Linked DNA regions of Homo sapiens. The protein of the gene in region 1 interacts with the protein of each later gene in a pairwise test. Each region holds a gene or a part of one and is shown in the gene's direction. Other genes may lie near its edges.

The links. Proteins that work in one complex are often made in the same cells at the same time.
Region 2: the proteins of PBX4 (region 1) and RANBP3 interact in a two-hybrid assay, tested with the Homo sapiens proteins (one large-scale study listed by BioGRID).

The regions. Positions count from the first base shown.
Region 1 is NC_000019.10:19,563,951-19,566,687, reverse strand, and holds part of PBX4 (pre-B-cell leukemia transcription factor 4), read left to right. Parts: intron 1-1,598; coding exon 1,599-1,755; intron 1,756-2,737.
Region 2 is NC_000019.10:5,968,141-5,971,640, reverse strand, and holds part of RANBP3 (ran-binding protein 3), read left to right. Parts: intron 1-3,500. UniProt on the Homo sapiens protein: Acts as a cofactor for XPO1/CRM1-mediated nuclear export, perhaps as export complex scaffolding protein. Bound to XPO1/CRM1, stabilizes the XPO1/CRM1-cargo interaction. In the absence of Ran-bound GTP prevents binding of XPO1/CRM1 to the nuclear pore complex.

The DNA.
Region 1 (2,737 bases):
CCAGGCTTGGTAGCACGTGCCTGTAGTCCCAGCTACTGGTGAGGCTGAGGCAAGAGAATCACTTGAATCTGGGAGGCAGAGGTTGCAGTGAGCTGAGATCGCACCGCTGCACTCCAGCCTGGGTGACAGAGTGAGAAAAAAATGTTTGAAGTAGCAAAGGTCATCCACAATCCTCTTCCATCCCTCAGCTGTTTCATTTCTGTGTGTTATTATACTATACGTTTATTTTACTTGCTTTGGGATACTGAAATGTGGCCCTGGATGGACGTCTCCATGCCTGTAGGAAGGCGCTGGCCCTGGGGTGCTCACCCATGTGAATCTGCCCAGGGGACATTTTTGTTGTCACGACTAGAGAAGGGAAGTGCTCCTGGCACCCAGTGGGTGCCAAGGATACCGCTCAGCACCCTGCAGTGTACAGGACAGCCCCCACAGAGCAGATGGAGCCCAAGCATCAGCAGTGCCACCAAAGGTGACAAGCCCCTCCCTGGGGGACTCCAGTGCCAGTTTGCAGTCAGAGCTGGGCTGATTCCACCTTGGCCATGGACTAGCTCCTTTTTCTCCTGCCTCTGCTTTCTTACAGCAGGGACGATAACAGCTGCCTCCCAGGTCCTCATGAGGATGAGGCAGAATGATATATGAGGCTGGGCCTGGAATCCCAGCATTTTGGGAGGCCAGGGCGGGAGGAACTCTCAAGCCCAGGGGTTTGAGACCAGCCTGGGCAACAGAGCGAGACCCTATCTCTAAAAAAAAAGAAAAAATATATTTTTTTTTCTGAGACAGGGTCTCACTCTGTTGCCCAGGCTAAATTGCAGTGCGATCTTGGCTCACTGCAACCTCTGCCTCCCAGGTTCAAGTGATTCTCCTGCCTCAGCCTCCCGAGTAGCTGGGATTACAGGCATGTGCCACTGTGTCCAGCTAATATTTGTATTATTAGTAGAGATGGGGTTTCTCCATGTTGTCCAGGCTGGTCTCGAACTCCTGACCTCAGATGATCCCCCCACCTCAGCCTCCCAAAGTGCTGAGATTACAGGCGTGAGCCACCACGCCCGGCCAAAAAACCTTTTTTTAATTAAAATTAAGAAAAATATATGAATATATGAGAAGTGCTTATCCTAGCACCTGGTACATTCCAACTACCCCTTCAGAGTTCACCTTGTTTTCATTTGATAAGTTTGGGATTCGATCGCAGTTACTGGGTCCCCAGGTCTCCCTGGCTCTCACTTTTCCTGAAGAGAACACGGAACGTAACCTGCCGCCTGCTGCATGGCAGCCAGAGGCGCTGTCCCTCCCGGCCCACCTCAGACAGTCTTGTTTTCCTTCCAGCCCCTTCCCAGGTTCAGGTTCCAGCAACATCCAGTTTTAGGCAGCAGAGTTCTAAGACACGCCAGCTCCAGGGTGTCCTCAACCCATGTGGACATCTCCCTGGGTCCGTGGTTCAGAGGGCGCCACCTTCTCAGTCCCAGACTCTTCATAGCCCCAGGGTGCAGTGTTGTCTTCTAAGGCAGTGGGAGCAACGGGCACCCCAGGGAACCCACAGACTGCGTCGTGTCTCAGAAGTCGCTGGGTCAGCTCCTCCAGTGACTCCTGTGTGTCCGCAGGTCTCTAACTGGTTTGGCAACAAAAGAATCCGGTATAAAAAGAACATGGGGAAGTTTCAAGAAGAGGCTACCATTTACACGGGTAAAACGGCTGTGGATACCACGGAAGTTGGGGTCCCAGGGAACCACGCCAGCTGCCTGTCAACACCTAGCTCCGGTGAGTGAGGCTGGCCCAGGGACAGTCATCTGTACCCATGTGGACGGCCACTGAGCTGCATCTGGGGAGGCCACAGTGGGACCACATCTCCCTTCCCCCAGTGGTCAACTCTGTGTAACTCTTTCTTCTGTTTCAACTGTGAGAGTTCTGTTCCTCTTGGCCATGATCCCAACCAACAGATACCTGTGCTTTGGGGACAGAATGGCGATACTAATAAGAAAAGACATGAAAGGTCTGGGTGCGGTGGCTCACACCTGTAATCCCAGCATTTTGGGAGGCCAAGATGAGTGGATCACCTGAGGTCAGGAGTTTGAGACCAGCCTGGCCAACATGGTGAAACCCTGTCTCTACTGAAAATACAAAAAAAATTAGCCCGGCATGGGCTGGGTGCAGTGCCTCACACCTGTAATCCCAGGCCGAGGCGGGCGGATCACGAGGTCAGGAGATAGAGACCATCCTGGCTAACACAGTGAAACCCCATCTCCACTAAAAATACAATTCACAATAGCAAAGACTTGGAACCAACCCAAATGTCCAACAATGATAGACTGGATTAAGAAAATGTGGCACATATACACCATGGAATACTATGCAGCCATAAAAAATGATGAGTTCATGTCCTTTGTAGGGACATGGATGAAACTGGAAATCATCATTCTCAGTAAACTATCGCAAGAACAAAAAACCAAACACCGCATATTCTCACTCATAGGTGGGAATTGAACAATGAGAACACATGGACACAGGAAGGGGAATATCACACTCTGGGGACTGTTGTGGGGTGGGGGGAGGGGGGAGGGATAGCATTGGGAGATATACCTAATGCTAGATGACGAGTTAGTGGGTGCAGCACACCAGCATGGCACATGTATACATACGTAACAAACCTGCACATTGTGCACATGTACCCTAAAACTTAAAGTATAATAATAATAAAAAAAAAGAAAGAAAAAACAAATTATCTGGGCGTGGTGGTGGGCGC
Region 2 (3,500 bases), about 14 Mb from region 1:
CCCAAGACCTTTTCAAGGGGACTGCAAGTTCAAAACTATTTCATAACAACACAAAGACACTATCTGCTCTTTTTTCACTCTTATTCACTTGAAAATGGACAGTGGAGTTTTTTTCCAGAGGTTATTGGATGTGTGATATGCCAACAGATGAACTATAGAAGCAGATAAGAGAATTCAGGCCGGGCACAGTGGCAAACACCTGCAGTCCCAGCTACTTGGGAGGCTGAGGTGGGAGGATCTCTTGAGCCCAGGAGTTCAAAGCCAGCCTGGGCAACAAAGCCCCTCTCTTTAATAAAAAAAAAAGAGAGAGAATTCAGCTATCTTCTATTAAGTCAGACGTTAAAGACATTTGTCAAAATGTAAAATAATGCCACTCTTCTCAGATTTTTTTAAATACTTATTTTTCATAAAAATATGTTATTTAACTAAACCTTTCTGGAGTTTATTATAATCTTAAGTATTTTGAAATTGTCTTAGGTTTCATTTCTAATATGGTGTCAGTAGTAGCTACATCCCACATTTCCAAAAGCTCTTGGGGATGTTCAGTCATTGACAAGCGTGGAAAAGGGTCCCGAGACCAGGAAATTTGAGAACCACTGGCATGTGCTAGCAGAGCCTCAGTGTACAGTGTGGGTTTCTCCGCTGCCTTGCCAACATCGGGAGAATTCTAAACCAGAGCTGACCAGCAGGTTCCCATTGGCAACTTGTGGCATGGTTGGAAGCACCTGGATTGGCTGTCCTTGGTTTGTGTCTTGCCTTCTGCCCTAGAAACATGGGCAAGTTGTCTGACCTTAGCTCTTGCATCTGTAAAATGGGAACGATGATACGCAAGTCTGAGGATTGTGGTGTGAGAGAGAATATACTTCTGGTAATTGACCTACTGGAATGTGGAGATACATGTCAGTTACTTCTAGCTGTGATTCTCCTAATTGGATGCCTGAGTAGAGAGAAAGCACCCTGTGAGTTATACCAGGGTTTTTCCACCTCAGTATTCTTGACATTGGGGCTGGTGGTGGCCATCTTGTGCTTTGGAGGATGTTGGGTAGCCCCTCTAGCCTCTACTCATGTGATGCCATAGCACCCAGTCATCCCACCCATCCACTCCCAGTCATGAGAAGATAAAAGGTCTCCAGACACTGTCCAGTGTCCCCTTAATGTCAGAATTGCCCCCACTTGAGAACCATTGGGTTATGGGATTTCATTGACACCCAAGAGACTTTGTGTTCCATAGTTATCTAACCTACTGAGGTCGTAGGAGCCTGTACACATTTAAAGCCACAGTCTGAGTGGGGAGGGAGAGAGGCGGTGAATCCCAGAAGCCAGGGTGGGGGGTCACCCTGGTTTGTGCCATCTAATCTATTGGGGATTTATTTTGGTGTATAATGTGAGTTAGAGATCCAGCTCAATTTTTTTGCCCAAGATTAATGCAAGGTTTCTTGCCCTCAGCTCAGTTGACATTTGGACTTGGGTCACTTGCTGGTAGGGCACTGTTCTGAGCCTCCTAGGATGTTGGTCAGCATCCCTGGTCTCCATCCACTAGATGTCTGTAACAGTTTCCTCCACACCCCCACAAACATGACAGTCACAATGTCTCCAGATTTTGACCAGTGTCTCCAGGGAGATGAAGTTACTCCTGGGTGAGAACCACTGGTCATAGGATCAAAGGAACCTACCCAGGAATAAATTAATTGCCAGCTAGAGTTTAAGGCCCTTCCTCCCAACCTTATTTTTCTATTCTGGCCTTTTGGCAGCTGAGTAGGCCTCAATGGACATCATATCCCTCTTCAGGAAGAACAGTCTTTTCCTTGACCTTTAACACTGCCTCTGGTCCAGGGTGAGGACCTGACAGAATGTAAGGGCTGGGAAGAACCTTCAGGGATGCCTGAGTCCTGGCTGCACCATTTCACAGGGGCTGAAGCCCGAGGCCATGGAAGCAGGTAGGGCTGGCTAGGGCCAGTGCGCCTGTCTCCAGCCATGGAGTCTAGGAGTTCATGCTTGTCCTTCCCGGTGAGTCAGTAAACTCTAGGTAATGGGCACTCGTTCACCCCTGAAAACTGACCCGCGTAGGGCACTGCATTTCGCTGTCGCTGTTTATGGTGTTCAAAGAAAGGGAGGAAATTCTAGAGACAGTAGTAGTTACTCCATACACATGTTTAGAAGGCAGGCCTTGCCTTTTGCAGTAAGTTTAAAATGCCTTTGCTAAATTAAACTCCCCCAGGTTTGCCACAGAGAATTTTGGGAACTTATTTACCCAGAATTAATTCCTGCGTTGCATCTGTGAGAGCAGAGCGTGAGTGGAAACGGTCCTTGAGAACTTGCCTTTCTCTGGGGGAGAGGGTGAGAAAACAGGCAGTTACCCTCTGCTCAGAGGAGAGAGGATGTTTTGCAGCATTGATGGTGATGGCCACTGGGTCCTAAGAGTCCAGAGCCTGGGCCCCAACCTTTACACTGGATAAATCCAGATTTGTCAGCATGGCCTGCAAGGCTGAACGTCCTGTGGGCTCCACCCAGCCCTTCCCGTTCTCCTCCCCTCCAAACATGGGCCTCCAGGCTCTTCCTTTCCTTAGAACCTTTGACTTGGGGTCCCCTCTGCCTGGGATCCCCTGCCTTCACCTGGCTCATCCCTGCTCACCCTTCATGTGTGAGCTTCAGCGAGGCCTTACCCATTCACTCACTCTCTCCCACCATCCTGTGGTATTTTCTCTGCAGCACCCAGCTCCAGAACTACCCAGTTATCTCTGCACACAGCAGGTACTTGTTTGTTTTCTCTTTCCCAGTAGAGAGCTGCGGCCTTGTCTGCCATTTCTTTCCTGTCTCCAGTGGCAAGCTCGGTGCCTAGCACAAGTCTGTGCTTGGTAGATCCTGCTGGTGAGAGCAAGGCTTGGCTGCTCGGCTCGGCCTGCCTTCAGATCCCACCTGTTTCCTGTGACCTCAGAAGGGCTCAGGCATTCCGAGCACCTGAGCGTTTGCCTTGAGTGTCCCAGGCGTCCAGGCAGCTCTTGGATCCAACCATTCCACCCCCTAAAAGGGGTCAGACTCTGACGCATTTGTCGTTGCCGGGCACTGGCAGCTGTCCTTGAATCCAAGGCCTATGCTTTAAGGTGGCATCAATATGTTTGCAATCTTCCGAGCATAATAATGCTACCAGTGCCAGTGTGGAATCATCCTGTGTGCCAACCACTTCCCCAAACACGGCATGTGCAGCATTTCATTTCATCCTTGCCGAAGCTGCCTGGGGTGAAATAACAGCCCTGATATGCAAATGAAGACATTGTGCCAGAGGTACATTGTCTTATCTGGGATCCCAACCGCAAGTAAGTGGCCAGGGCAGGTTTGAACACACACAAAGACCAGAGCCCGCGCTCTCCAGTATCATCAGTTTTGCTCTGCTGCCTCAGCATAAATTCTGTAGTTCTTGGATTTCCTTCCTGTAAGCTTCCGTGTAGAGAGGAGGGGATTCCTGTTGTCTCTACTGGAACTTTCCCGAGTCTTCAGCCACT